2 separate regions of the Homo sapiens genome follow, and region 2 is linked to region 1. The links come from fine-mapping of genetic effects on gene expression. A gene starts in region 1. The other region holds a variant in brackets. All regions are shown on one strand. Distances are between the middles of the regions. Region 1 holds the start of GSTK1 (glutathione S-transferase kappa 1). Region 2 has its middle 2.6 kb from the start of TAS2R40.

Evidence for each region.
Region 2: its variant is fine-mapped to the expression of GSTK1 in whole blood (INTERVAL, PIP 0.99).

What each region holds. Positions count from the first base shown.
Region 1 is chr7:143,261,825-143,264,735 of GRCh38, forward strand. It overlaps GSTK1 (glutathione S-transferase kappa 1), which reads left to right and starts at 1,617. Exons shown (of 8, transcript NM_015917.3): 1 at 1,617-1,761; 2 at 2,262-2,343; 3 at 2,724-2,852. The coding sequence starts at 1,690. All of the region lies in intron 2 of TMEM139-AS1 (TMEM139 antisense RNA 1), which reads right to left. LOC105375546 (a long non-coding RNA gene) reads left to right here. Exons shown (of 3, transcript XR_007060569.1): 3 at 1,324-1,383. RefSeq lists a silencer at 1,435-1,504 and enhancers at 1,532-1,826, 1,645-1,864.
Region 2 is chr7:143,217,962-143,220,872 of GRCh38, forward strand. No RefSeq gene overlaps it. Among named protein-coding and RNA genes, the nearest start is that of TAS2R40, 2.6 kb to the right of the region's middle. The variant G/A (reference allele first, on the strand shown) is at 1,790.

The DNA of each region.
Region 1 (2,911 bases):
TCCATCTTCTACCAGTCCCTCTTTTTTTTCACTCACTCAAAATATATGTATCGATGGTCAAATGTGTCCCAGACATTGTGCAAATCTCTGACAAAGGTAACACAAGAAAATGTGTACTCTGAGAACTTCTTATTCTGCCCCAGTTTAGGAGATTCATGCAACTGCCAAGCAACAATAATAAGAGCTAGCAGTTATTGGAGTACCTCATTCCTCACAACTCGTCATAAGGCAGGTGTTATCATTAGATATTCCCCATGTGTATGCAGGATGAGGAAATAGGTTCAGAGAGGTCAAGTGGCTCACCCAAGGGGCACAGCTAAGTGAAAGGCACTGCAGGCATCTCAAACTACCCCCTTCCCACAAGACTCCACTGCAGAGCAGGACAGTCACCCTGACACCAGCCCAATGGGTTCATCTTGCCCATTACCCAGATGGGGCTAATTTATCAAGACAAGGGAATTGCAATAGAGAAAGAGTTTAATACACATAGAGCCAGCTAAACAGGAGACCAGAGTTTTATTATTACTCAAATTAGCCTCCCAAAATTCGGAGGCAGAGGCTAGGGGACTTTGTGGGTTTTTTTGTTTTTGTTTTTGTTTTTCTTTTGAGAGGGAGTCTTGCTATGTCACCCAGGCTGGAGTGCAGTGGCATGATCTCGGCTCACTGCAACCTCTGCCTCCCGGATTCAAGCAATTCTCCTGACTCAGCCCCCCGAGTAACTGGGATTACAGGCACATGCCACCATGCCCGGCTAATTTTTGCATTTTTAGTAGAGACAGGGTTTCACCATGTGGGCCAGAGTGGTCTTGAACTCCTGACCTCAAGTGATCCACCCACCTCAGCCTCCCAAAGTGCTGGGATTACAGGCGTGAGCCACCATGCCCGCCGGCTAGAGTTTTTTAATGATAGTTTGATGGGCAAGGGGCTAGAGAATGGGTGCTGCTAATTGGTTGGGGATGCAATCACAGGGGTGTGGAAAACCGTCCTCAGTGCACCGAGTTGCATTTGGATGCGGGCCACAGAGGAGTCACTGGTCCAGGTGGAGTCATCCTGTCATTAGAAATGGAAAAGTCTGAGAAGGTATCTTCAAAGGCCAGTCTTAGGTTCTACAAAAGTGGTTATTTACAGGAATAATTGGGGAAGTTGCAGAGCTTGTGACCTCTGGAACAATGTCTGGTAATTGTTAATGCCTACATCTTAGCAGAATTCAGGCCCCTCTCATAATCCTAAACTTGTGGACTTTTATTAGTTTTATAAAACTGGTTTAGTTTGGGGAAGGGCTATTATCATTTAAACTATAAACTAAATTTCTCCCTATATTAGCTCGTCCCATGCTCAGGAATGACCAAGGGCAGTTTGGAGGTTAAAGGCACGATGGAGTTGGTGAGTTCAGATCTGTTTCACCTTCGTAATTTTCTCACTGTTAAAATTTTTGCAAAGGCGATTGCAGCGCCCCTTGTCCACACCTGCGCGCTCCCCAAGGGGTCCCTACCCACCCCGCCCCTGGCTGGGGGCCGTAGGCTGGCCCTGCCCCGCTGCGCCGGAGGTGGACCTCTACCAGGGCAGTTTCTCTCTGAGGCTGCGCGCTAAGGCGGTGGGCGGTCCCAGGCAGGCCCAGAAGCTGGGCAGCCTCTGCCGGGTTCCGGGAAAAGGAGCTCCTGCTGCCACTGCTCTTCCGGAGCCTGCAGCATGGGGCCCCTGCCGCGCACCGTGGAGCTCTTCTATGACGTGCTGTCCCCCTACTCCTGGCTGGGCTTCGAGGTGACGCTGGGAGGGGTCGCCTCGGCAGTGTCTGGGGAGTGAGGGCGGAGGGAAGAGTGAGCGCAGGGCTCCGGGACAGAGGTCTCGTGTAACTCCTGGCGCCGCCCAAGGGGTTAAGGCAAGCAGGGAGAGCTCCGGGGCTGAAGGTCACTTTGTGCTTTTAAACGGAATAGAGTCGCTGGCTCCAACCCGAGCCTTTATATCCCGACTGCAGTTTCCCACGGTGGTGGAAAGAGGGGCGGCTCCAAACATTCAGGGAGAAATGCAGAACACGGCCACCTCTTAGCCCAACGATGGCAGTTTTGGGGAAAACTGGCCACAGGAGCGAAGATCCTGGAATAGATTTCTAGTAGTGAGGAGAGTTTTGCCAATTTCAAACCAAACAATGTAGGGTGTCCGCATAACCCCTGCTCTGCACTTAGCGCCTCCCTTCCCTTTCCCTCGGCTCTTTCACTTTTCCATCTTGCACACTGGCAATCGTTCTTGACCTCTGCCCGCAGATCCTGTGCCGGTATCAGAATATCTGGAACATCAACCTGCAGTTGCGGCCCAGCCTCATAACAGGGATCATGAAAGACAGTGGTAGGAAGGGAGGGTCGGGGCAGGGGTGATCTCAGTGGCCCAAGAGAGCCGACCCCAGCGGGTCCTTATATTGGCACTGGCAGCCAGAAAGCTGCCCTCTGCCCCGTCTCTACTAAAAATACAAAATTAGCCGGGCGTGGTAGTGCATGCCTGTATACCACAGCTACTCGGGAGGCTGAGGCGGGAGAATCGCTTGAACCCAGGAGGCGGAGGTTGCGGTGAGCTGAGATCGCACCATTGCACTCCAGCCTGGGCAACAAGAGCGAAACAACAAGAGAAAAAAAAGGAAGCTGCCCTCTGCCCAAAACCCACGTCGAGGTCCCCAAACCTGGGACCCTTAGGTCTTTTCTCACTTAGCGTGCCCAACCTTCTCCTGGCAGGAAACAAGCCTCCAGGTCTGCTTCCCCGCAAAGGACTATACATGGCAAATGACTTAAAGCTCCTGAGACACCATCTCCAGATTCCCATCCACTTCCCCAAGGATTTCTTGTCTGTGATGCTTGAAAAAGGTGAAGAGAGTGGGATGTAGACAGGGTATCCAGTGAAAAACACAGAAGTCGGAGATTGA
Region 2 (2,911 bases), 44 kb before region 1:
TCCTCAAGACTCACATGAGATCCTCACAAGACAGCCAACATATGGATATCTGGCACCCGGAAGTCATGGAGGGCCAGATGGTGTTGGCCAGGGGAGCAGCAGCAGCACAAAAGAGTGCATTTACAACAGCAGCCAGGGAAATAAAGAGACTCTTCTGCCTGTCCTCTCTCTCATACACTAGCCAAAAACTGAAGAGGGAGAGACGGGTGTCTCAGGGTCCACCTTGTCTCCTCCCAGTCCTAGCAGATGGGGTGTCAGCTGAAACTGTGCTTGGGGAAAGGCAGAAGATAATACTTAAACCAAATATGAAATTAAACTGGACTGAGTATTAATAACCAAAAGAAGACGAACATTTGGAACCTGCCCAAGACATTACAATTGGATGGGAAGCACAGAATGGGGCACTGAAACTGGAGGGGGAGAAACATGTTGTGTTTATCCCTTCTCCTTTCTCCTTCTTGTCTTCCATGAAGGACACCTATGCTCCTTGGGAGTCACTCAAAGATTTGGCATGAAGGTGGGATGTAGAGTCTATACTGTGGTCATTCCTGTCCTTACGTTGATGTCAATTCACGTGTCCACACTTTGATCTCATGCTTGTAAAGTCTCCTTGATATGGCCACTAGACCCCATGGAATCCGATAACTCCCTTAGCAGATTTCCAAACTCCTTCTGTGAACACAAGGAAGGTTGAACAGCTCTCCCAAGTGTGGACAGGCTGCAGGGGACTCAGGGGCCCTCTTGCAGCCTGTCTGCCTTTGACACCCCCATGCAGCCATGAGCAGTGGGCCAAGATGTGGGACCCCTTCAAAAGAGATCCTTACCTTCTCTAGCTCTTTCCTGCCTCCTCTTCTTTCATTCCTCTCCAACTGGGAAAGCATTTTCTAGTCTACATGGTAGTGATGGAGAGAGATGTGAAAGAAAAATGTTTCCCTGGAAACATTGGAAGAATAGGTGTATTCTTCCAATCTGTTCTATCCTATGCCTGGACCAAAGCTTTTAAACTTCGTAGCCAAGAATTTGAAACTTTTGTTCCTTGAAGACCCCCATGAGAACTTCTCTAAAGCAGGCCGGGTGCAGTAGCTCACGCCTGTAATCCCAGCACTACGGGAGGGCAAGACAGGTGGATCACATGAGGCCAGGAGTTCAAGGCCAGCCTGACCAACACGGTGAAACCCCGTCTCTACTAAAAATACAAAAATAAGCCAGGCATGGTGGCACACACCTGTAATCCCAGCTACTTGGGAGGCTGAGACATGAGAATCGCTTGAACCTGGGAGGGGGAAGTTTCAGTGAGCTGAGATCGTGCCACTGCACTGCAGCCTGGGTGACAGAGCAAGACCCTGTCTCCAAAAATAAAAATAAAAAAAGAACTTCTCTAAAGTAGAGATGATGCCTCCATTCTAGCTCTCCAAATGATAAAATATGGAATAAAAATGAATTGGCCCCACATAGCTATAAATGTGGCACTGTGAGTGCCTTGGAGTTGTCAGCCCAGACTGCCAGCTTGCATTGAGCCTCAGCAATAGTCCCACACCCCAATGGCTGATCCCCTCCCTGCTCCTCTTGCCTGAGCCTCTGGGGCTGCAGGCAGACCCTGCCCAAGATCTCCTTCTGTTCCCACCTCTTAAAATCAGAGAAAAACATGAATGAAGACCAATAGAAAACAGTACCAGAACAATGGAAGTCAACGATTGTGTGCCAGAAATTTGGGGAGATATCATTTATTACAAACTTGCATATGTTGGGACAAAATAAACCAAAAAGTGAGTTTGATGCTTTGGAATAC[G/A]TGAAAGCTGCTGACAAATACTACTGTCCTCAATTAAGAGAACTAACCAAAGTTAATGAGTCTCTTACAGGAGATGCAGAACCTGCCAACAAATCTCGTTTCCAGTTCTGACTATTATGAATAAAGCTGCTGTGAGCATTTTTGTACAAATCTCCGTGTTGACATAAGTTTTAATTTCCCTAAATAATGCTTTCTTAATTTTGAAATATATTGCTTTGCCTGGTGCTTATTTCTATACAAATAATAAATCTCTACTTCCTTATTTAATTAATTTATTTATTTTTGAGACACGGTCTGGCTCTGTCACCCAGGCTGGAGTGCAGTAGCTCCATCTCAGCTCACTGAGACCTCCGCCTCCCAGGCTCAAGGATCCTCCCACCTCAGCCTCTCGAGTAGTTGAGACCACAGGTGCATGCCACCATGCCCAGATAATTTTTTGTATTTTTGGTAGAGAAGGGGTTTCACTATGTTGCCCAGCCTGACCTCAAACCCCTGAGCTCAAGCAATCCTCCTCCTCAGCCTCCCAAAGTGCTAGGATTGCGGGCATGAGCCACTGCGCCCAGCCAACTTCCTTATTTTAAATAAAATTAATTTGGGGTGGGGAAACCCATTTTTATCATTCATCAATTTATATTATTAAAAAATATAATGGACCAAGGCCCAAAATATAATGGACCAAGGTGTGAAGGATGGTAGCTCACACCTATAGTCCCAGTATTTTCGGAGGCTGAGATGGGAGGATTGCTTGAGCCCAAGAATTCAAGATCAGCCTAGCCAACATGGCGAAACTCTGTCTCTACAAAAAATACAAAACTTAGCCAGGTGTGTTGGCATGCATCTGTAGTCCCAGCTACTCAGGTGGCTGAAGTGTGGGGATCACCTGAGCTATGGAGGTCAAGGCTGCAGTGAGCCATGATTACACCACTGCACTCCAGCCTGGGTGATAGAGTGAGACCCAGTCTCAAAAAGAAAAATAATCAAATAAAAATAACAGGGTAAGCACACTGGAAAATGATAACTGGCACTCAGCTTCTGTGTCAAGAAGACACTAGGAATTAGTATTGTCAACAAACTGAAAAGTATATACCTTGTTTAAAATGGGCAGCCATTACTCAGCTTCAG